Linked DNA regions of Homo sapiens: all the other regions are linked to region 1. Evidence: fine-mapped QTL for protein levels in blood plasma. A gene starts in region 1. Each other region holds a variant in brackets. All regions are shown on one strand. Distances are between the middles of the regions. Region 1 holds the start of PLAUR (plasminogen activator, urokinase receptor). Region 2 overlaps ZNF112 (zinc finger protein 112). Region 3 holds the start of KCNN4 (potassium calcium-activated channel subfamily N member 4).

Evidence for each region. PIP is the posterior inclusion probability: the model's chance that the variant is causal. The UK Biobank Pharma Proteomics Project read protein levels with antibody pairs (Olink). The fine-mapping took linkage between variants from a reference panel, not from the people measured, so its PIPs are less certain.
Region 2: its variant is fine-mapped to the plasma level of the PLAUR protein (UK Biobank, PIP above 0.99).
Region 3: its variant is fine-mapped to the plasma level of the PLAUR protein (UK Biobank, PIP above 0.99).

What each region holds. Positions count from the first base shown.
Region 1 is chr19:43,668,383-43,676,561 of GRCh38, reverse strand. PLAUR (plasminogen activator, urokinase receptor) reads left to right here and starts at 6,393. Exons shown (of 7, transcript NM_002659.4): 1 at 6,393-6,496. The coding sequence starts at 6,442. It overlaps LOC124904724 (a long non-coding RNA gene), which reads right to left and starts at 7,798. Exons shown (of 3, transcript XR_007067264.1): 1 at 7,379-7,798; 2 at 6,082-6,536. RefSeq lists enhancers at 1,029-1,128, 6,325-6,624 and silencers at 7,545-7,624, 7,665-7,894.
Region 2 is chr19:44,330,119-44,338,297 of GRCh38, reverse strand. It overlaps ZNF112 (zinc finger protein 112), which reads left to right. Exons shown (of 4, transcript NM_013380.4): 3 at 1,580-1,675. Among named protein-coding and RNA genes, the nearest start is that of ZNF112, 22 kb to the left of the region's middle. The variant C/T (reference allele first, on the strand shown) is at 5,385.
Region 3 is chr19:43,778,605-43,786,783 of GRCh38, reverse strand. KCNN4 (potassium calcium-activated channel subfamily N member 4) reads left to right here and starts at 5,811. Exons shown (of 9, transcript NM_002250.3): 1 at 5,811-6,081. The coding sequence starts at 5,923. RefSeq lists cis regulatory regions at 1,131-1,578, 3,579-4,045, enhancers at 1,084-1,583, 1,584-2,085, 2,073-2,367, 3,713-3,882, 4,023-4,072 and 2 more and silencers at 2,073-2,367, 5,560-5,829. The variant G/C (reference allele first, on the strand shown) is at 4,353.

The sequences.
Region 1 (8,179 bases):
GGACTCAAGGGTTTACCAGCTCTTCCACTCCCCAGGGAGGCCCTGAGTGGAGAGGTCCTCTACATCTAAGAGGTGTCCAGGCCAGGATCTGAAAGCCACATCAGTGTGGCCTGTTAGGCGTCCCAGAAAGGGGAGGTTATGAGCGATGGCCCTTTCCCTACCATCAGCTCAGCCACCCCCCATCCCCCCCACCTCCCCAACCAGAGAAGGACCTTCCCAGCGGCCAGGCCAGAGGGCAGTCACTTCATCATGGCAGGTGGCAAGAGGATGAGGGAGCCCCAAACAGGTGCACACACACACACACACGCATGCATGCAGGCACACTCACACACATGCATGCATACACACACTCACACATGCACATATGCACACACACACACACAGGCACACAAACACGTGCGCGCACACACACATGCACACACATGCACACAAACACATGTGTGCGCACACACGCATGCACGTACACTCACACACATGCACACGCATGCACACACGCGCACACATGCACACACGCACACACACAGTGTCCCTGTATCTCTGTGTCTATTTTGTGTTCTCTGAAGGCAACTGTGTGTTGTTTTCTCTAACTCCTCTGTCAGTCTCTTATCTTCTCTCTCTCCCTGCTTGCCCATTTTTCTTTCTCCCTGTCCTTGTTCTTCGGTTGCTGTTTTCTGTCTCTCTCACTCCCCCCACACCCCCATCTCAGATTTCCCCTGAGCCAGTCTGTCTGTGGGTCTCTTCTCTCTCCCTCTCCCTCGTTTCCCCACCTCCATCTCTATCCCCAGCTCTCTCTCTCTCTCTCTGTCTCTCCCTCTCTTTGCCTCCTCCTCTATCACCCTCTCTGTCTCTGCCTGAAATTCTCCTCTCCACAGGCTGGGGAAGCCCCCGAAACCCATGGGCCTCACCCATGATCCCGCAGGCAGGCAAGAGCTGGGTGAGGCCCAGGTGAGTCACGAGGAGGAAGGAGCCGACATCCCTGCCGTGTTTCTGGAGAGTGTCCAGGTCCTGATCCCTGCATTTCCCTTCCCTTTACACGTCAGCAGAACCTTACAGGTGTGTGTGTGTGTCACTTGAGGGAGAGACAGAGAGAAAGAATCAGAAAGAGAAACAGAAACAATGACACAGAAAGAGAAAGAGAGCCATGGGGAGAGACAGAGAAAAGGGAGAAGCAGAGATAAAAAGACATGAAGAGAGAGACAAACAGATACAGAGATCGAGGTACAGAGAGAGAAAGTGATAGAGTTGGAGAGAGAGAGAGATAGGCATTGAGAGAGAGAAAGAGGGACAGAGACAAAGAAAACAACAAAACAGAGAGATAGAAAAAGACAAAGACACAGGGAGAGACAGAAATTTCAGGAGGCGAGGGCAGCCTTGGGCAGGGATGAGTGGGCTCTGAAATACCTCTCATTCGTTAAAGAGGAAATTGGCTGAGCATAGTGGCTCACACCTGTAATCCCACCACTTTGGGAGGCCAAGGCGGGAGGATCACTCGAACCCAGCAGTTCAAGACCAGCCTGGGGAACAGACCAAGGCTCCATCTCTACAAAAAACACGAAATATGAGAAAATAGCCAGGCATGGTGGTGCACACCCCTAGGTCCCAACTACTCAGGAGGCTGAAGTGGGAGTTTCGCTTGAGCCCAGGAGTTCAAGGCAGCAGTGAGCTATGATCATGCCTCTGTCTCAAAAAAAAAAAAAAAAAAAAAAAAAGGGAAATTGGGAAATTGTGGCTTAGAGAAGTGAGGTCATCCCACCAGGAAGTGGTAGCAGCACAGCACACAGCTCCGCATGACCCTCAAACCTGAGTTTTCTCTTCACTGAGAGATGCCCCCTACCCACCCCAGACCCATTTCATAGGTGGCAAAGCCGGGGATTGATGGAGTGAAGCCATCTGCCCAGGGTCACCCAGAAGCAAGTGGCTGAGCTGGGTCTCAAGCCTGCTTGGACCAACACCCCAACTGTCTATTTCCCCACCTCATGTACATTCCGATCTAGTTTAGTTTTCACACCAGCCCAAGAGGGATCCCCTTCTCCAGCTGAGAAAACTGAGGCTCAGAAAGAAGAATGTCATTGGCCCAGGGTGACCCAGCCAGGGAAGTGCCCACTTCAGCAGCTGACGCGTGATAACTGTTGACGTCAGACTCAATGACAGGCCTCCATCTCCCTTCCTACTCCAGGAAGAGGTGAATGTCCAGAGTTGCAACAATGATAATACTGGCAGCTATCGCTTTTATTGAGCACATACTATGTACCAGGCACTGTGGCAAGCATCTTAGGAGCATTCTTCTTTTTGTTTGTTTGTTTGTTTGTTTTAGATGGAGTCTAGCTCTGTCGCACAGGCTGGAGTGGAGTGGTGCGATCTCGGCTCACTGCAATCTCTGCCTCCCAGGTTCAAGCAATTCTCGTGCCTCAGCCTCCTGCGTAGCTGGGACTACAGGTGCATGCCACCACACCTAGCTAATTTTTTTGTATTTTTTAGTAGAGACAGGGTTTTGCCATGGTGGCCAGGCTGGTCTTGAACTCCTGACCTCAAGTGATCCACCTGCCTTGGTCTCCCAAAGCACTGGTATTATAGACATGAGCCACCATGCTCAGTCATTTTAGGTGGATTCTTTTACCTCCGCAGTACACCAGCCCTGGGAGGGTGATACTTGCTATCTCTACTTTCCAGATAAGGGGCTTGGGCACAGAGATAGATTAAGTAACCTGCTAGAGGTGACACAGCCAATATGTAGATGCAATTTAGATTTTCACAATCTGAGACCAGCTCCCACACTCTTAACCATTGGGCTATACTACCTCTTAGGAAATTCTCTGGGAGTTCTTTTTTTTTTTTTTTTCAGTCTCACTTTTGTTGCCCAGGCTCGAGTTCAGTAGCTCGATTTTGGCTCACTGCAGCCTCAAACCCCTGGGGCTCAAGTGATCCTCCCACCTCAACCAGAGAGTAGCTGAGACCACAAGTGTGCACCACGACACCTGGCTAATTTTTCTATTTTTCATAGAGACAAGGTCTCGCTATGTTGTCCAGGCTGTAATTTTATTTTTTTATAGATACAAGGTCTTACTATGTTGCCCAGGGTGGTCTCGAACCCCTGAGCTCAAGCAATCCTCCAGCCTTCGCCTCCCAAAGTGCTGAGATTATAGGCATGAACCACTGTGCTCACCATTGGGAGTTTTTTTGTTTTTTGTTTTCTAACCTTATCTTAAAATCATTAGCTTACAGCTTCAATGAGTTAGTAAGAATCACATAGTACAGGCTGGAAGCGGTAGCTCATGTCTGTAATTTCAGCAATTTGGGAGGCCAAGGTGGGTGGATCACCTGTAGTCAGGAGTTAGAGACCAGCCTGGCAGACATGGTGAAACCCCATCTCTACTAACAATACAAAAATTAGGGCCGGGTGCGGTGGCTCACCCCTGTAATCCCAGCACTTTGGGAGGCTGAGGCAGGTTGATCATCTGAAGTCAGGAGTTCGAGACCAGCCTAGCCGACATGGCGAAACCCCATCTCTACTAAGAATACAAAAATTAGGGCTGGGCGCAGTGGTTCAAGCCTGTAATCCCAGCATTTTGGGAGGCTGAGGCGGGTGGATCACCTGAAGTCAGGAGTTCAAGACCAGTCTGGCCAGCATGGTGAAACCCCATCTCTACTAAAAATGCAAAAAATTCGCCAGGCATGGTGGAGAATGCCTGTAATCTCAGCTACTCAGGAGGCTGAGGCAGGAGAACCTCTTGAACCTGGGAGGCAGAAGTTGCAGTGAGCCGAGACCGTGCCATTGCACTCCAGCCTGGGTAACAAGAAAGAAACTCCGACTCAAAAAAAAAAAAAAAATAGCCAGGCATGCATGAGAATCCCTTGAACCTGGGAGGTGGAAGTTGCAGTGAGCCGAGACCACGCCATTGCATCCAGCCTGGGAGACAAAGTGAGACTCTGTCTCAAAAACAACAACAACAACGACAACAAATCACATAGTATAATCATTATTACAGCAGTAGAAGTAGCTACCACTTACTCATCCCCTACGACTCTCTTCCTCTCCTAATCTGTTCCAGCCACACTGACATCTCTTCTGTTCCTAGAATCTCATCAGGCTTCCACCTCAAGGCCTTTGCACTGGTTGTTCCTGCTCCTTGGAAAGGTTCCCTGCCCATCTGCCCTACTTCTTCCCTCACTGCATTCAGCCTCTGCTTGAATGCCACTTGCTCAGGGAACCCCTCCTGGATCACCCACCTAAAACAGCTCACACCTCATTTGCACCCAGATACTTCCTTCAGCCTGCTTTGTTTTCTCCAGTTTGCTTATCCCTCTCAGACAGTGAAAGATTAGATAACACATATCTGCTCCCCACTGTCAACACAACAAAAGGTGGGAACTTTGCTTTGCGTCCTGCTGTGCCCCTAGCTCCTGGACCAGTGCCCAGCACAAAGTAGGTCCTTGGTAGATGTTAAAGGAATGTGTTGAGCCCTCCATTTCGGCCAGCAGCTATTCCAGGCATTGCACCTACATTAAATTGCTCTGTTTAGTTAGATGCATCCTAAGACGGGGAGACAATTTTATCTTTAGTATTTTATTTTACTTAAAAAAAAAAAAAACTTGGCCAGGTGCAGTGGCTCATGCCTGTAATCCCAGCACTTTGGAAGGACAAGGCAGGTGGATCACCTGAGGTCAGGAGTTCGAGACCACCCTGACCAACATGGTGAAACCCCATCTCTACTAAAAATACAAAAATTAGCCGGGTGTGCTGGCGTGCCCCTGTAATCCCAGTTACTCAGGAGGCTGAGGCAGGAGAATTGCATGAACCCAGGAGGCGGAGATTGCAGTGGCCGAGATTGCACCACTGCACTCTAGCCTGGGTGACAGAGTGAGACTTCGTCTCAATAAATAAATAAATAAATAATAAAAAGAAAGAAAAAACTTATTATAAGCCTTTTCAAACCCACAGAAAAGGAGACAGAATGGCATAATATGCCCTTATATACTGATTACCTTTATATAATTGATACAACCATTTGGCTATTTTGCCTTTATTTTCTACTCAAGTATTTATTTATTTATTATTTTTTTGAGACAGGGTCTCGCTCTGTTGCCCAGGTTGGAGTGCAGTGGTGCAATCATAGCTCACTGCAGCTTCCAGTTCCCAGGTTCAAGCGGTCCTCCCACCTTAGCCTCCCAACTACCTAGGACTACAAGTACGGGCCACTGCACCCAGCTAATTTTATTTTATTTTTAATTTCTTTTGGAAAGATGAGGGCTCTTTATGTTTCCCAAGCTGATCTTGAACTCCTGGCCCCAAGTGATCCTCCTGCCTTGGCTTCCCAAAGCATTGGTGTTACAGGCATGAGCCACCTCATCTGACCTCTTCTAAAATATTATAAAATAAATACAGACATCAAAATGAAAACAAAAGAAAAAGAAAAAACAAAACAAAAATCCCCAAAACAACAACAACAAAAAATGCAGACATCAATAACATTCACCACTAAATACTCTAGTAAGCATCTGCAAAAACAAACAAACAAACAAAAACCAGAATCCCACCTAAGCATACAGCCATTGTCGTAACAGTGATATCTACTTTTTTGGCTGAAGTGTCTTTTTTTTTTTTTTTTTTTTTTTCTGTGAGAAGGAGTCTTGTTCTGTTGCCAGGCTGGAGTGCAGTGGCACGATCTCGGCTCACTGCAACCCAACCTCCGCCTCCCGGGTTCAAGCGATTCTCCTGCCTCAGCCTCCTAAGTAACACACACACGCCACTACGCCCGGCTAATTTTTGTATTTTTAGTAGAGACGGGGTTTCACCATTAAGTGTTTTAATGTAGGTGCAATGCCTGGAATAGCTGCTGGCCAAAATGGAGGGCTCAACACATTCCTTTAACATTTACCAAGGACCTACTTCGTGCTGGGCACTGGTCCAGGAGCTGGGGGCACAGCGGGAAGCAAAGCAAGGGTTAAGTGTTTTAAGTGTTTAAGAGATGCATATTTCAGGATGCATCTCTAGATAAGGACATTTTCCAAAATACCAGTATCCCTCCTGACAAAACTAACAAAAATCCTGTTAGCCAAATAATCAGCCACATTCATATTTACCGTCAAAGTTTTTATCCTCATTTTACAGCAGTGGAGAGCGATTGCCCCGGGTCCCACGTTAGGAAGAGAGAGAACTGGGATTTGCACCCAGGCAATCTGGGGACAGAGCTGTGATCACAACTCCATGAGTCAGGGCCGAGCCAGCCCCTTCACCACCAGCCGGCCGCGCCCCGGGAAGGGAAGTTTGTGGCGGAGGAGGTTCGTACGGGAGGAGGGGGAGGCGCCCACGCATCTGGGGCTGACTCGCTCTTTCGCAAAACGTCTGGGAGGAGTCCCTGGGGCCACAAAACTGCCTCCTTCCTGAGGCCAGAAGGAGAGAAGACGTGCAGGGACCCCGCGCACAGGAGCTGCCCTCGCGACATGGGTCACCCGCCGCTGCTGCCGCTGCTGCTGCTGCTCCACACCTGCGTCCCAGGTAGGGGCTGGGTCCCGAACGCCTGCGCCTGGAACAGGGTCTAATTGAGGGGGTTGGGGGTTGTCAGAGGATGAGTTGGAGGAATGCGGTTCAGTCCTCAGCATCCTCCCTAATCAAATAATAGTAATTCTCGTGCTTTGTGCAACGCCACGCGGCGCAGTACCTGGCACTCAGTAGCTAAGGAAATATTAGTGGAGCAAAGGCATTTAGCTTTACATAATTTAGTGAGTGCTTTTTTTTTTTTTTTTTTTTTTTTGACAGAGTCTCACTCTGTCGCCCAGGCTGGAGTGCAGTGGCGCGATCTCGGCTCACTGCAACCTCTGCCGCCCGGGTTCAAGCGATTCTCCTGCCTCAGCCTCCTGGGTAGCTGGGATTACAGGCGCCTGCCATCGCGCCCGGCTAATTTCTGTATTTTTAGTGGAGACCGGGTTTCACTCTGTTAGCCAGGATGGTCTCAATCTCCTGACCTCAGATGATCCACCTGCCTCGGCCTCCCAAACTGCTGGGATTACAGGCGTGAGCCACCGCGCCCGGCCCAAGTGTTCTTTTTTTAAATGGAGTTCTTCGAAGCCTCTTCCTTGCAATTTCAAACTAGGCGATGGGACTTTATTAATTTCGTTTCGCAGAGGAAACTAGGGCACAGAGAGGTTAGATAACTGGCCTAAAATCACACAGCCAGTGCTTGAATACGCAGGATCTGACCCTGCAGCGCCCCCCAGCGCTCTCCACGCTGCTGGGTCTCCCCCTCTGAGAAACGGGGGGACAGGACCCCCTTTTACAAAAGGCCCAAAGGGAGGCTGACTGAGCGGCGCAGAGCCAGTGCTGGAGACCCGGGACTGTCCCTCAGGACCTTTCCCTCTCACTGAGGCGACTCTCACTTACTTCCCCGGAAAATGTGGGGGGCTCTGGGTCGAGGAATTCGAGAAGGAACTGAGTCAGGGCGGGTGGCCACAGGGTGTTGGGGCCGCGATGAATAACCCGGAAAGCGCTCGAGACCGCGGGAGGCCGGGAATGAGTAACAGCTCCGGGATACTCCGAACGCGCAGCTGGAAAGGGATGTCCGGGAAGGCCCGGAGGTCGGGGACCGGGCCTAGGGACTGGGCTGCAATCTCGGGGCGGAGCCTGGGGCGGGGAGAGAGTGTCGGGGAGGAGCCAGAGGGCGGGGCTGGAACCTCAAGGAAGAGCTACGGGAGAGGTTACAGACCGAGGAAGAGCTAGGAGCGGGGCTAGAACCTCGAGGCGGAGCCAGAGGGCGGGGTTATAACCTCGAGGCGTAACCAGAGGGCGGAGTTATAACCTCGGGAGGAGCTAGAAGGTGGGACTAGACTCTTGAGGGGCAGGATTATAACCTCGGGGAGGAGCTAGAGGGCGGGGCTGGAACCTCAAGGAGGGGCTAGGGGCGGGGTTATAAGCTTGGGGAGGAGCTACGGGGCTGGGCTAGGACCTCAAGGGGCCAAGGGGCGGGGGTTACGACCTCGGGGAGGAGCTACAGGGTGGGGCTGAAACCTCAAGAAGGGACTGGGGCGGAGTTATGACCTCAGGGGAAAACTAGGGGCGGGGAGAGCTAAAGGGCGAAGTTAGAATCTCAAGGAGGAGCTAGAGGGAGGGACTAAAGCCTCGAGGAGGAGCTAGGGGCGGGGTTATGGCATCGGGGAGGAGCTAGGGGGCGGGAAGATAAGGTCA
Region 2 (8,179 bases), 660 kb before region 1:
ACTTTACCTCCTTCCCATTTAGCAGTCAGCACCTGGCATAAACTTGCAGTCAACAAGAGCCCCCCACTTCTCAAGCATCATTTCAATGTTATTTGTAGGGATTTGTGAAATTTTTTAAAGGTTTATAGTTTATTACTGTAATTTTTTAGATGTTAAAATTGTCCCAAGTTTGGCCTCTTTAAGCTGGCTCCTGTGACCTTGTAACATGTCCCCAATTTTTTTTTTGAGCACTTTCTTACTTTGTTGGCAGAGAACAGTATTTTGTGCTCATCTTTACTTTGCCTTGGCTCTGGAATTATCTTTTTTTTTTTTTTTTTTTTTAACTGGGGAATGGTATTTAATGCCAAAGTCTGGATGCTAGGTATGGTCACTGTAGTATCTATGATCTATGTTTCTTTGTCTCAGGACATAGAGCTAGGGTGTGTGTGTGTGTGTGTGTGTGTGTGTGTGTGTGTGTATGTGTATGTATATACATACACATATACACACATAGAAATATGTATACATATGAATAGATGTTCAGTTTATTTCAAAAGAAATGTTCATTACAATTATACTGAAATGCCATTTCTCACCCATGAAATTGGCAAAAATTCAAAAACGTAACACTATACGTTTTTTGGCAAAGCTGTGGGGAATGAAGAACATTCATGCGTTGAAAGGAAGAATGCAAAATGATACAACCCTTAGGGAGGGGAAGTTGACAATATCTAACAAAGCTAGGTATTTACCCTTCCCCGGCAACCCATTTCTGGGGATTTTCCCTAAAAATAGCCATGTCCAAAAGAATATTAATAGTATACTACAATTCATGTAAGAAATAAGGTAAAATAAGTAAATAGACAGTGTGTGGGTACAGACATATATATATAATATATATTATTATATATAAAATATATATTATATATATTATTATATATAAAATATATATAATAATATATATTTTACACATATACAAAATGTATATATATTTTATACATATACAAAATATATATATATTTTATACATATATGAAATATATATAATATATATAAAAATATATGTAATATATAAAAATAATATATATTTTATATATATACTTATTTTTATAAGAAGAAACACAAGAAGGAAGGTTTAATGAAAATAATGGCCAGGCGTGGTGGCTCACACCTGTAATCTCAGCACTTTGGGAGGCCAAGGCAAGAGGATTGCTTGAACCCAGGAGTTCAGGACCAGCCTGGGCAATGCAGGGAGACCCTGTCTCTACAAAAAATTTAGCTGGGCATAATGATGCACACCCATGGTCCCGGCTACTCTGGAGGCCCAGGTGGGAGGATTGCTTGAGCCCAGGGGTTGAGGCTGCAGTTGTAGTGAGCTGTGATCATGCCACTGCATGCTGGCACAGGCAGAAAAGTGAGAGCCTATTTAAAAAAAAAAAAAAGAAAATCATGAAGTTAGTTTCTTATAGTGAGTGGAAGGTAACAGGGTGGAAGGGATGTGGGAGAGAGTCTCACTTGTCTGTGTATACCTTTTTGTCTAGTTTTGACCAATTGAATGTCATCAAACTTAAAAACTTTTGCTGTCCTTTCCTTCTTTACAGCACATCAGCCCTTCAAGCCAGACCTAATATCCCAGCTGGAGAGAGAAGAAAAGCTTTTGATGGTGGAGACAGAAACCCCAAGAGATGGATGTTCAGGTGAGAACTGTGCTGCAGGAACACAGCAGCCAGGGAGCCCCTTCTAGAACATGAGTCAGAACACATCACTTCTCTGTTTAAGCTTTCCTGTGGCTCCCCATTTCACACATAGTAAGTTTAAAGTACTTAAAGTGGTCTATTAGGTCCTAAGGTATCTGTCCCCTCAACCTCTTCTCACTTTCCATATTCACCTACCATTGTTTGTTTTTGCTCATTCAGTCTGTTTCAGAGGCACTGCCCCATGATTGCCCCCTCAGACCTCTCAATTATGCTTCTGTGTCAATTTCCTTGACTTGCTTTTCTCTCTGAATGAATTGGGTAATAGATGCATGATCTTTGCTCTCTTCAATTCACCCTGAGGCAGCTAATAGGTGTAGAATAAATCTGTGTAATTGAAGGGTATTCTAGAATACTGTTTCTCATCTGATGGATGCCTGTTTTAACTGCTTAGCTGTCCTTGAGTATTCATAGATGGGTAGCCATTAATCCTAAAAGATAAGAATAGCCAATCAGCTAAAGTAAGTATCAAAAATGACCAATGCCAACATTATAACTGGTCTTCCTCATGCAGCATTTTCAAGTGAGACACCCTTGTATTCATATGTCCATCTTCTTATCCTCCCATTCTGTCCCATACTCTCGCACCCAAACAATCTCTTGACATAGCCACAGTCTTAAAGTAGAATCTTCAAGTTGGACATTTATGTGAATCCAAACATTTTGATAGTTTCTTGAGTCCTCAAGACTGACATCAAAAGCCACCGTCGCAACTGTGTAGCTAAGGATGCTGCTGGATAAGAAGAAAGAGTCAACAGAAAATTCAAAACAAATTAACTCATTTCTATAATGGTTTGTTTCCATCTTGGTTAAGATTCAGGGTCCTACATGGTACCCTTGAGAGTAGGAGTTAAACTTTTTCTCTAAAGGTCCAAGTAGTAAATACTTTAGATTTTCCTGGCCACATGTGCTCTTTGTCACAGTCTTTGTTTTTCTTACACCACTTTAAAAATGTAGAAAGCGTTCTTGGCTCCTGGGTTGTACAGAAACAGGCCGAGGCCATGCTGTGCCAGTCTACCTTCCTGATACTGTCAGCTGGAACATAATGTCACCTTTTAAAATACCTTAATTTTTTTACCTATACTAACATGATCATATACCTCATATTAATGTAAAAATTTGTTATGTACATTCTTGTTTTTAATATACTAATTTTTCTTCTTTGCCGTTACCTTGGGGAAATCCCTCCCAGTCTAAGATTATAACTCTTGTTTTTGTAATGGATGCATAATACTCTAATAAACAAACTAGTTACTTCCAAGATACAATGGGGCTACAGCCTTTGGGTAAATGCCCCCATTCTGAAAGGGAGAAATCAGGCAAAACAAAGGGGCTGCAGGCCCCATGCCAATCTGAAACCCAGCAGGGCAGTCATTAAATCTCAGAGTTCGAAAATAATCTCCTTTGACTCCATGTCTCACATCCAGGCATGCTGATGCAAGGGATGAGCTCCCAAGGCCTTGGGCATCTCTGCCTCTGTGGCTCTGCAGGGTATAGCCCACTTGGCTATTTTCATGAGCTGGCGTTGAGTGCCTGCATCTTTTCCAGGCACGTGGTGGAAGCTGTTGGTGGGTCTGGGGTCTGGAGGACGGTGGCCCTCTTCTCACAGCTCCACTAGGCAATGCCTCAGTGGGGACTCTGGGGGCTCCAACCCCACATTTCCCTTCTCCATTGACCTAGTAGAGGTTCTCCATGAGGGCTCCACCCCTGCAGCAGACTTCTGCCTGGACATCCAGGTGTTTCTATAAATCCTCTGAAATCTGGGCAGAGGTTCCCAAGCCTCAGCTCTTGCCCTCTGCACACCACAGGCCCAACAGTACGTGGAAGCTGCCAAGGCTTGGGGTTTGCACCCTCTGAAGCAATGGCCTGAGCTATACCTTGGCCCCTTTTAGCCATGGCTGGAACTGGAGCAGCTACAATGCAGGGTGCCGTGTCCTTCAGCTGTAGAAAACAGCAGGGCCCTGGGCCTGAGCCACAGAACTATTTTTCCCTCCTAGGCCTTCAGGCCTGTGGTAGGAGGGACTGTCATGACTGGCTCTGAAATGCCCTGGAGGCATTTTCCCCATTTTCTTGGCTATTAACATTCAGCTCCTCTTTACTTAGGCACATTTCTGCAGCCTTGAATTTCTCCCCAGAAAATTGGTTTTTCTTTTCTACCACATGATCAGGCTGCAAATTTTTCAAATTTTTATGCTCTGCTTCTTTTTTAAATATAAGTTCCAGTTTCAGATAATCTCTTTGCCCATAAATATGAGCATATGCTGTTAGAAGCAGCCAGACCACATCTTGAATGCTTTGCTGCTTAGAAATTTATTCCACCAGATAACCTAAATCATCCCTATCAAGTTCAAAGTTCCACAGATCTTTGGAGCAGAGGCATAATGCTGCCAGTCTCTTTGCTAAAGCATAGCACCAATGTTGGGAAAATGTATAAATGCATTTACAAACCTAAATATATCTAAATATATCACCAGTTCCAGTCCCCAATAACTTCCTCATCTCCATCTGAGACCACCTCAGCCTGGACTTCACTGTCCATATCACTATCCGTATTTTGTTCAAAACCATGTAACAATTCTCTAGGAGATTCCAAACTTTCCCTCATCTTCCTGTCTTCTTCTGAACCCTCCAAATTATTACAACCTCTGCCCATTACCTGTTTCCAAAGTGACTTCCACGTTTTCAGGTATCTTTATAGCAATGCCCCACTTTTCTGGTACCAATTTTCTTTATTCGTCCATTCTCCCATTGCTGTAAAGAACTACCTGAGACCAGGTAATTTATAAAGAAAAGAGGTTTAATTGACTCATGGTTCCATAGGCTATACAGGAAGCATGGCTGGGGAGGCCTCAGGAAACTTATAAATATGGCAGATGGTGAAGGGGAAGGAGGCATGTTTTACATGGCAGAGAAAGAGGAAGAGAAAGAGGGCAGGAAGTGCTACATGCTTTCAAACAACCAGATCTCTTGAGAACTCTGTCACGAGACAGCACTTGGGGGATGGTGCTAAACCATTAGAAAGCACCCCCATGATCCAATCACCTCCCACCAGGCCTCAACTCCAACACTGGGAATTACAATTCAACATGAGATTTGGGTGGGGACGCAGAGCGAAACCATATCAGTGGTTAAGAAAGGAGTCAGCACAGCAGCTTAAATATTTGTGATCAAAACATTGTCACCACTATACCTTGTATTGTCTCTATCTAAAAGCGAAGTAAGAACGGAAGGTGATCTCAGCCTGGGTAACCTGAGCTGATGTTCTCGCTTAGCTTTTATTAAAGAAGAAGAAGAAGAAGACATAAACAAAGATTTTTTTTCTCTGAGTTCATTATAGCTAACTATTAAATTCAAAGGAATTACTTGTCTTTATGACAAATATAGCACCTTTGTTATTGAATTGATCAATTTGGGTTGCTTGAATCATTGACTTTCTCAACCTCTAAGTGCTAAAGCAGGATTGCTATGAAGATGTAATAAATTCTCAACCTTCTTACCTCAAATGATGTCTTCGGCATCTTTTGTCATGCTTAGTTTCTCCATCAAATAAAGTTCATTTATAAACTTAACACAATTTCTTATTACCATTCTACCATTGATATTGAAATAGAACTTAAATGTTGAGTTATTTAAATAAAGTAACAAGGTGTTT[C/T]GGTCTATACCATTGACTAAAGGAAATTAATGTTGTTACATGTGTGGTCTTTTTTAGAAGAGTGTGAAACAAAGTGAAATGACCTTTTATTTTTTTTCTTCCTCTATGTCCTTAACATTGCAAAACCCACTGCTCAGAGAGAAACTTTAATCTCATATATTTGAGAGATTTTTATATCATGAATTATGTACTAATTTGCATTGAAACAGTTGCTTTGTGAGAAATTGGGTTTTGACTAACAAGCTACTTTCATGTTCTCAAGCCACTACATCAGTCCCAAAAGACAGGACATATTAAACTGTATCTTTATGGATGTATATTGAGTGTTTTTTATAATAGTAAAACAAAACTACAAGGATTATGATTAACCCTAGCTGGAAGCTCAAACTTCTCACATATAAGCTATATACTTTATCTGATATGCCTCCTATAATATATCCCTTCATTTCATCATTATATGATAAAATATCATTATAATAACTGAAAGCTTCACTTTTGAGAAGGCAAAGACATCAGTAAATGTGCTTTTAAAGTACCAAGATGCATACCTACTGATATACCTTGAAGTGTTATCCCACAATCAGTGTGCTGCCCCAGAGCCTAGTGATACAGATTCATCAGTGTGGCCTTTTCTTTTTTCCTTTTTTAAAAGTTGGGATAGGGTAGGGCTTACGGGTAAGATTTTGTTCAAGAAAAATTACACCATTTTGGGTTTTTTTGAGACAGAGTCTTGCCATGCTGCCCAGGCTGGAGTTGCAGTGGCTGTTCACAGGTGCAATTATATTAATAGGTCACTGCATCCTCAGATGCCTGGGCTCAAGCATTTCTCCTGCCTCAGCTTTCTGAGTAGCTGGGTCTACAGGATTGCGTCACCATGCCTGGCTCACAGTTGTACCATTTAAAAAGTTACTTTAAAAATGAGAAAGACTCAATCCACAGGCCCTGCCTATGGGTCTTTTTGATCTTACATTTTTATTTCATCCACAGTAGATTCTTGTGACCTTTGCTTTTCTCATCAGCAGTATCACTCTGAATTGTCGCCCTACGTCTCCTATAGCCTTTCAGCTTTCCAGCAAAGTTGCCACCATCACCAGTTCCTTTCCCATTTAAAAAGCTACATTACATGCTCTTTTAGTTCTATGAGTGAGAGCAACTCAAACTATGATTTATTCATCAATGTTTATTGAGCAACTACTGTTCACTTGGCAGTGAAAGGAATGCAGTGCACAAAACAGTGTTTGTTTTCATGGATAATACATTCCAGTGTGGAGAGGCAGACAAACACAAAGAAATAAGGCAGAATTATGTTTGAGGGTAATATTCATGAAAAAACATCCCTTTTACTGCTTTTCTTCTGGATATTATAGAGACTTAATCTACTTCTAAGTGTTAGAAGAATGCATGTTATTAATTCAACCCTGTTTAACCAGTTGTCCTTAGGGAGGATATTTGTCACTAGTATATGAAGATCTGCTGTCTGCTTATAATCTGAGCTTTAATAACTAGGTAACTATTTCTACCCAAATATCCTGTCTTCAACCCTTTCTGGTGCCTCAAATTTCCTAAACACTAACATAATTTTCCAGTAAAATGGCACAAGCAAAAGTCAGTATTCATTGAGTTCTGTTCCTGGCTAATGAGCACCTCAGAGGACACCTACAGGTGCCATAATTTTTTTCTGATTTTTTTAGTTGAATTCTGTCACAGTCTTTCACATTTTGACCTACACCATGGCCGTTGATAATTGTGAAATATCTTTTGAAAAGAGTTAAAATCTGTAATGGCCTACAGGGACTTAGAAGAGCTTATTATTCTCTAAGCCCTCTTAGCGCAGCTGGCAGCGCGTTAGTCTCATAATCTGAAGAAGAGCTTATTATTCTCATGAGGATAAATAGCTCATTAGTGACAGGATATGTGATGCCTCAAACATAAAGTAAAAGTCTGTATTTACCTTCTTCAGCATATCATTTAACGCACACAGTACACTTACAAATGAACAACATTATCATGTTTATGTGCCAGACAAAAAAGAAAAACTTATTAGGACAAAAGGCGTTTGTCCATTTGCAACTATATTTTTCCAGTTTTAAGAACATCCTCTTTTCCCCTTCAGATCTCCTGGAAACCCATGATTAATCCATGATAACATGTTTATAGTTGTGTTGTTTTGTTTCGTTTGAGACAGGATCTCATTCTGTTGCCTAGGCTGGAGTGCAGTGGCATGATCTTAGCTCACTGCAACCTCTGCCTCATGGGTTCAAGTTATTCTCCTGCCTCAGCCTCCTCAGTAACGGGGACTACAGGTGTGCAACACCACGCCTGGCTAATTTTTGTACTTTTAGTAGAGATGGGGTTTCACCATGTTGGCCAGGCTGGTCTCAAACTCCTGACTTCAGGTGATCCACCCGACTTGGCCTCCCAAAGTGCTAGGGTTACAGGCATGAGCCACCATGCCCAGCCATGTTTATGGTTTTACTAAGCCTTTTGAACACAGCCATCATGTTCGATGTCCAGGTCGTGCTGCAAAGTCCTGATTTTGAGGCATCAGATATCCTGAATTATGTAGATGCTATTTGTATGTAGGTTAAATATCCCTTCTCCAAAATGCTTGGGACCAGAAGTGTTTTGTATTTCAAATATTTTCAGATTTTAGAGTATTTGCATTATACTTACCAGTTGAGCATCCCTAATCAGAAATCTGAAATACTCCAATGAGTATTTCCTTTGAACATCATGTAGAACATTAAAAAAGTTTTGGATTTTGGAGCATTTCACATTTCAGATTTTTGGATTGA
Region 3 (8,179 bases), 110 kb before region 1:
GCCTGCTGTTAGGGCTCCAGACATTCTCTCTCACCTAAGCCTCAAGCAGCCCTGTCACATAGGAAACATAATCCCTCTTTTACAAGTTTCACAGAGCACACAACTATGGATGGCAACTAGGTTTGAACTCAGGTTTGTCTCTAAACCAGGCTGTACGTATAACATATTCCATACAAAAATAAAGTTAGGCCGGGGGTGGTGTCTCATCCCTCTAATCTCAGCCCTTTGGGAGGCTGAGGCAGGTGGATCATCTGAGGTCAGAAGTTCAAGATCAGCCTGGCTAGCATGGTGAAACCCCGTCTCTACTAAAAATACCAAAATTAGCCTGGTGTGGTGGTGCATGCCTGTAGTACCAGCTACTTGGGAGTCTGAGGCAGGAGAATCGCTTGCATCCAGGAGGTGGAGGTTGCAGTGAGCCAAGATCGTGCCACTGCACTCCAGCCTGGGTGACAGAGCGAGACTCTGTCTTGAATGAATGAATGAATGAATGAATAAAGTCAGTGGTCACATCGAGGCTTAAACCGAGGTCTCTAGACTTCCATATTGTGAGATATAGATATCTGTATATCATATACATCTGTATACACTATACATCTGTATACTATGCCATATACTATACTACATATCTGCATATACTATATATAGAGTGTGGGTGTATGTCTCTGTGTAATAACATAATATACATACATTTTTAACTGGCGGGGAACACAGAGATACAAAGAAGAAAATAAAAGCAGAAATGAAGAAAAAAGGAGAAAGGAGAAAAGCATGCACTTGGAGACTAAGACCAGGAGATAGAAACAGAGAAGCAAGACAAGGCGCAGTGGCTCACACTTGTAATTCCAGCACCTTAGGAGGACGAGGCAGGAGGATGGCTTGAGACCAGGAGTTCGCGACCAGCCTGGCAACATAGTGGGAACTGATTTTATGACCAAAAAAATGTTTTTTAATTAAAAAGAGAGAGAGAGAAGAAAGAAAGAAAGAAAAGAAAAAAGAAAGAGAGAGAGAAAGAAGAAAGAAAGAAAAAGAGAAAGAAAGAAAAAACAAGGACAATGATATACAGAGAGAAAAATGAAGACTGAGAGCAAAGAAGAGACTGAGATTGATGGAATCACGAGGTCTCCCTCCTTTAGCCTGGAAACTCCACAAGAGCAAGAATTTTGTCCATTTTTGTTCATTACATATCGCCAACTCCTTGAGCAGTGCCTGGCACTCAGTAGGTGTTTTGCTCTATGTTGGCAAGAAACCAGGCTGGACAGGGAGAGTGTCTGCAGTTGCCTAAGTGAACACTAGGTGACAGTATTTATAAGCCCTGGAGCTTCCAGGCTCCAAGGTCCCAGAGATGGCGGTGGAGGATTTGCCGCCACTGACCTCTGACTTTCAGGATCTCTTCCTCGGGGCTCAGCCCTGCCTTTCCCTGCACAAGCCTTGGGCGATGAATGACCTTTCCGCCTGAGACACCCTCTTCACTCTCCTTCACCAGCCTGCCCAGTTAAACAACTCTTTGTCCCTGGCCCCTTCCTGCTGGGCCCCGAGGCACCTGGGTTCTTTCCAGGCCCGGAGATGGGGCTGCGACAGAGGTGGTGCAGCTGGGACAAGGCCAAGGAAAAATCCTGGAGACTCTGGAATCAGTTCTTCCAGTGTATGAGACCCAGCCCCTCCTCCCTCAGACCCAGGGGTCCAGACCCCAGCACCTCCTCCCTCAGACCAGCAGTCCAGGCCCCAGCCCTCCTCCCTCAGACTCAGGAGTCCAGACCCCAGATCCTCCTCCTTCAGACCCAGGAGTCCAGGCCTCAGCCCCTCCTCCCTCAGACCTAGGAGTCCAGATCCAGCCCCTCCTCTCTCAGACCAGCAGTCTAGACCCCAGCCCCCCTCCTCCCTCAGAACCAGGAGTCCAGACCCCCTGCCCCTCCTCTCTCAGACCAGCAGTCCAGACCCCATCCCCTCCTTCCTCAGACCCAGGAGTCCAGACCCCAGCCCCTCCTCCCTCAGACCCCCTCCTCCCTCAGAACCAGGAGTCCAGACCCCCAGCTTCTTCCTCCTGGACCCTTCCTCTTAGGCATTTTGAGGTCCTCTACTATTCCCTCTCCCTCTCTTTTACACAAACCCCTCTCTCCCTCCACTCCCCATTCTAGGATTGAGACCAAGGGTGAGTCACAAGAAGCCCTGAGGCCCTGAGTCACCTCGCCCTCCCCCCTTGGCCCCTCCCTGGGCTGGAGGCAGCTGGCTGAGGAGTGAAGCAGTTTCCTAGGACTGACCCCTGCATCCCAGGACTGCAGTTTGAAGGCAGGTGCCCTTCCCACTGTAACCCCATCACTGCCACCCAGGCATGTCCATGCCCATCCTTTGCTGTTTTTCTCTTTCAGTCATGGCCTATTTGGAGACAAAATTTCTCTGTGCTCTAACTTCCGTGTCTTGATTGTGTTTTCCGGTTTCTCTGCACCTGTGGGTCTCTTTGATTTTTTTTAATACATGCCCCCACCATCCCTGGCTGAATGCCTCGAGGTCTCTCTGATTATCTCTCTCTCCCTCTGTGTCAGTCTCTGTCTCCGTTTTTCACAAGTGCCTGAACTGGGGCACAGATGCCATGGCATGGCCGCAGCTGGAGCGCTATTTAGTGGCTTCTGACCCTTGGGTGGCCACAGTCTCTGGATCACTGGCCCTCAACCCCTGAGTGGGACTGGGGTAGAACCGGAAGGAACCAGGCTGTCCGTAGATGTGCCAGTGAACAGCAGAGAGAAACTGAGGCAGAGACAAGCATAGAGAGGCCCGGAGAGAGAGAGAGAGACCCAAGAGGAGACCAGGAGGCAGGGAGAGAGTGAAACAGAGACGGAGAGAAACACCGATTCAGCAAGAGACAGACAAAAACAGAGGGCCCTAGAGACGGAGAGATGGAGACAGAGTGAGACACGATGACAGAGACACAGGCAATGATGAACACAGAGAGAGACATGACAGAGAGACAGTGACGGGGAAAGAAGGAAACAGAGGAGCAGAGAGGGACACGAAGATGGAGAAAGGGACAGAGCGATGAGAGAGACACAGAGAGGCTAAGAGAGGCAGAGACAGAGAGACAGAGTGAAGAGAGACAGAGAGAGACAAAGGTACCAGGAGAGAAGAACAGAGACAGAGATAAAGACAAACCTGGCCAGGCACGGTGGCTTACGCCTGTAATCCCAGAACTTTGGGAGGCCGAGGCGGGTGGATCACCTGAGGTCAGAAGTTCACGACCAGCCTGGCCAACATGGTGAAACCTCGTCTCTACTAAAAATACGAAAATTAGCTGGGTGTGGTGGTGCACACCTGTAATATCAGCTACTCGGGAGGTTGAGGTAGGAGAATTGCTTGAACCTGGGAGGTGGAGGTTGCAGTGAGCCGAGATCGTGCCACTGCACTCCAGCCATGGGAGACAGAGCAAGACTCTATCTCAAAAAAAAAAAAAAAAAAAAAAAAGACAAACGCGGAGGTTTCCAGATCAGGAGAGACTGAGACAGGAAGCAAGTCCCAAAGAACCAGAGAAAGAGCCGGAGAGGGAGGAGAGAGACGCAGCGAGCCGGGCGGCCAGTGGGCAGGGGTGCCCAGGCTGCAGGCTCAGGAGTGCCCGGCGGCTGCACTTTCCCCAAGTGGACGCATGTGTGGTGTCTGGGCGCGCCCGGGTGTGTCTCCAGCCCTCTCCCGCCAAGTCTCGCCGAGTGGGTAATTGTGTGTGCCGAGGGGCGGAGCCCCCGCAAGGGTTGTGTTTTTGCCACTGGGCGTGTCCATGTGTATGGTTTGGTGTCTCTGGGTGTGTTTGTGTGGGCTGCCTTGGTGTGCAGTCAGACATGTCTGTGCGTGTCTCGCTTCCCTGGGGCTGGTGGGTCCAGGGTCCCACACGACCTAGGACACAAGGAGGGGGAGGGTTGTGTCCGCAGGTTCCTTGCAGAGGGGTGTGCATGAGGCCAAGGGCAGTGTCACCAGTTCAGTGCATGATGCTGGGAGGTGATGTGCGTCACCAGGTCAGTGCATGCCTGTGTGTCTCCACAGGAGGGTTTGATCTGTGTCGGAGCGTATGGTGTACAGATCCATGAGTGGCTCGTGCTGCGACACATGGAGATGTCCTATGTTGTGTGTTGCTCTGAGAGTCACCGTGCACATTCCACACTGGCATTTGCTGTATCTCACGTCAGGGTCCATGTCCCTGTTGGGGGCCTCTTCCTTCTCAGCCCCCAGCACCCACCCTGAGTGCCAACCACCCCAAGTGTCTTGTGTTTGTGTAGCTGTGTGTTATGTTGTGTCAGAGGATACACCCCCCTCCCCCGATGCTGGTGTTGTGTGGGTGGCGGTAGACCTCAGTGTCAGTAGTATCAGTGAGT[G/C]GTGACATCTGGTGTTTTATGGGACATGTGGTCGTTTGTGGAAGGTTGGGTGTGTTGGAAAACATTGTGTTTATGTGTTTTGCGTTACTGTGTGCTGGTGTATTACTCCGCGTATGTTGTTGTGTGGCCACGCATGTTGGAATATAACGTGTTGGGTTGTGTGGAGGTATTGTATGTCATGTTTGGGTGTGGCTCATGGCTCAGAGGTGATGGTGTATGTTGCGTTTGTTTTTTTGTTTTTGCTTGTTTTAGAGATAGGATCTTGCTATGTTGCCCAGGCTGGTCTCAAACCCCTGGGCTCCAGCAATCCTCCCACCTCAACCTCCCAAACTGCTGGGATTACAGGCATGAGCCACTGCACCCAGCCGTATGTTGCATTTGGGCACTGGGGTCTATGAAGGTCCAACCCCATCCCCTTCCCCCAGGGCATCATCCTGGATGTTGTCCTGTGTGGCCAGAATATACCAGAATCATCTTGCTTCAGGCATGTGCTTCTTGGGTTTCTCCGTGTGTCGCTGTACCTTGTAGGTCTCTGCATGCATCCACTCAGCTTGTCCTCTGACCATACATTTGAATCGCACCACACATCAGAGCATGCTGAATCAGTGCGTGTTTTGAATCATCACTGCGAGCACTTGTGTTCGAGTCAACAGGCGCCACAATGTATGTGCAATTCTCTAGCTCTGGGTGATTGGGGGCTACTATAGGTATGTCCCTAAATGTTGTGTGTCTACACGTATTGGGTTTCGTTCCAAGGGTGTGTAGTGTTTAGGAAACTGGGACTGCACAGTGTTTGTGTCGGTGTGTGGTGTGTGGCATCAGGGCGTCACTACTTTAATATATATTGTGTGTTTGTGTAACACCTGGTGTATGTTGTGTTTGTGTGGCCACAGTTGTGCATCGTCCTATTTGTGGTGTTTGGGTGTGGCTCTTTGTGTCAGAGAAAGTTGTGACAACTTTGAGTGTAATATTTGTGCCTGTGTGTGGACGGTGTTTGGGTGGCTGTGTGTGCCACGGGATACTGCCTGCTTGCTAAGTGCTGGTGTGTGTCACACCATGTGTGTGGTGTCTGGGTGTGGCTGTGGGTTTCAGAGCTTGCTGGGAGTTGTGAGTCACTCTGTGTAGGTTGTGTTGTGTGCCCTGGTGTGTTAGTCTCCGTCTTGGGCTGTGGAGTGTCCTTCGGTGTCTGGGTGTGGTGAGTAGAGGTGTGTGTCACAAAGTACAGACCATTGTGTGTGACAAAGCCCATCGTGTGTCTGTGTGTGTCTTTATCCACGTGGATGGACGTCTCTTTCTTGCTCTGCCCCAAGACACACCCTAGCCCCTCCTTATTCTCAAAAGGGGGAGCTGGGGAGCCTCCCCCTACCCTGGGGCCTCCCCTGCCCCTCCCCGCCCTGCCTGGCCGTCACCACTCCCCAGAGGGCACAGGGCTCTGCTGTGCCTCAGAGCAAAAGTCCCAGAGCCAGCAGAGCAGGCTGACGACCTGCAAGCCACAGTGGCTGCCCTGTGCGTGCTGCGAGGTGGGGGACCCTGGGCAGGAAGCTGGCTGAGCCCCAAGACCCCGGGGGCCATGGGCGGGGATCTGGTGCTTGGCCTGGGGGCCTTGAGACGCCGAAAGCGCTTGCTGGAGCAGGAGAAGTCTCTGGCCGGCTGGGCACTGGTGCTGGCAGGAACTGGCATTGGACTCATGGTGCTGCATGCAGAGATGCTGTGGTTCGGGGGGTGCTCGGTGAGTGGGGCATGGTGGCTGGGAGCTGGGACTCCTAGGTCTGAGGGAGGAGGGGCTGGGGGTCAGGACTCTTGGGTCTGAGGGAGGGGGGGCTGGGGGTCAGGACTCCTGGGTCTGAGGGAGGAGGGGCTGAGGGTCAGGACTCCTGGGTCTGAGGGAGGAGGGACTGGGGACTTGGACTCCTGGGTCTGAGGGAGGAGGGACTGAGGGCCTGGACTCCTGGGTCTGAGGGAGGAGGGGCTGGGGGTCAGGACTCCTGGGTCTGAGGGAGGAGGGGCTGGGGTCTGGACTCCTGGGTCTGAGGGAGGAGGGGCTGGGGGTCAGGACTCCTGGATCTGAGGGAGGAGAGGTTGGGGGCCTAGACTCTTGGGTCTGAGGGAGGAGGGGCTTTGGCTGGGACTCCTGGGTGCTCCCAGGAGACAGTTGCTGGGGTCCTTCTCTGCAAAAGGAAGGGAATATTTGTTTCAGTGTTTCAGTCTTTGAAGATGTTGCCATTAGACGGCCAGAGGTCCAGGACCCCTGGAGGCCAGAGGGTGGCTGATCAGACACTCAAGCCCCCCAAGAGCCAATAAGGGGAGAGGTAGCCCCAGGTTTGGTGAAGGGAGAGTGGAGGAAAGACAAAGTTCTTCCAGTAGGCGGCAGCTCTTTGGTCCTTGTCTAACCTCTAATGTTTACCCAGTGCCTTAGATGCAAAGGACAGAAAAAACTGCCTTGGGGGTGGGGATGGGAAATGGGAAACAAACCTCTCCCCCGACCTGCCTCCCCCCACCAACCCCAACCCAGTCTCCACTGTTAACAAGCTCAATTTCTCCCCAAATCTGCATGCTGATTAGTCAGGGAAATAGTGGAGAGGTAGGCTTACAGTGGCCTGGACTCCTAGGTACCAGGAGAGGAGGGGGCTGGGTCCTGGATTCCTGAGTCTTAAGGAGAAGGGGGTTTTGATTGCTTTTGGGGAAGAGGGGCTGACTCCGAAGATGAGTGGTGAGTAGGGAAGAAAGGGGAAAGTGGGGTCAGGGCAGGTCTCAGCAGGCTCCCGTCACATTCCAGCCCTGGTCAGGCCAGTGATGGGGCAGATCAAGGACAAGGGTTGGAATAAGTGGCTTGAGGGGAGAACAGACTTGCTCAACAGGAAAGGAGGGGCTGGAGACCTCTCTGGCAGAAGGGTTGTGGAACTGGGCTGGTAGGGCCAGATGCGGACACTGATATGAAGATTGGGTAGATTCCTGAGGGTCTGATGTTCCGACTTGGATCTGGAGGGGGTGGTGGGCAGCTCTGAAGTGACCAGGAGCCACATGGAGGGTCAGGCATGCAGCTTCCTCTGGCAGGCGGCGGGCACTGAGGGGGTGGGGCCGCCGAAGTCCATGCCAACAGGAAGCATGGCCGGGGCCTGCCCGCCGCTCCCACGCCGAAGCACCGCACCCAGAAGCCGAGGTGGGAACACAGTGACCCTGGCAGATGGGAAGAGACGGGGTCCATCCTACCCCACTTCACCCCTCTGCTTTCTCACCCCTCATTTCTTCCTTCCCTCCACCATGGCCAGGCCACTGCCTCTATCAGTGGGACCTTGGGGAAGCTGTTACAACCCTCTGAACCTCAGTTTCCCCATCTGTAAATTGGGGTGAGGGTTAAAATACATGACCCTAAGGGTCACCCTCCACCCTTTTTATTTTATGTAGAGATGGGACCTTGCTTTGTTGCCTAGGCTGGTCTTGAACTCCTGGACTCAGGCAATCCTCCTGCCTCAAAGTGCTGGGATTACAGGCCTGAGCCACAGCTCCTCAGTCCCCTTTTGAGGACTCTCTTAATAACATCCACCGCCCCTCACCACCTCCATCTCAATCTAATGAGCTCATTTCTGCAAAGGACCCAGACACCTGCTCCCCAGGGGGAGGGGCTGGCAGAGAGGCAGGTGCAAAACCCTAGGGAGTCCAAGGGAACTGGATAGAGATATCCAAAAGCACCAGGTGGGGTGGAGGAGGAGGGATGGGGAGAGGTACAGAGAGAGACAGAGACACAGAGATACATGGAGAGAAAAAGAGAGATGGAGACAAAAATGCAGAAAGATAGAGAAGTACAGCTAAAGAGAAAGACAAATAGG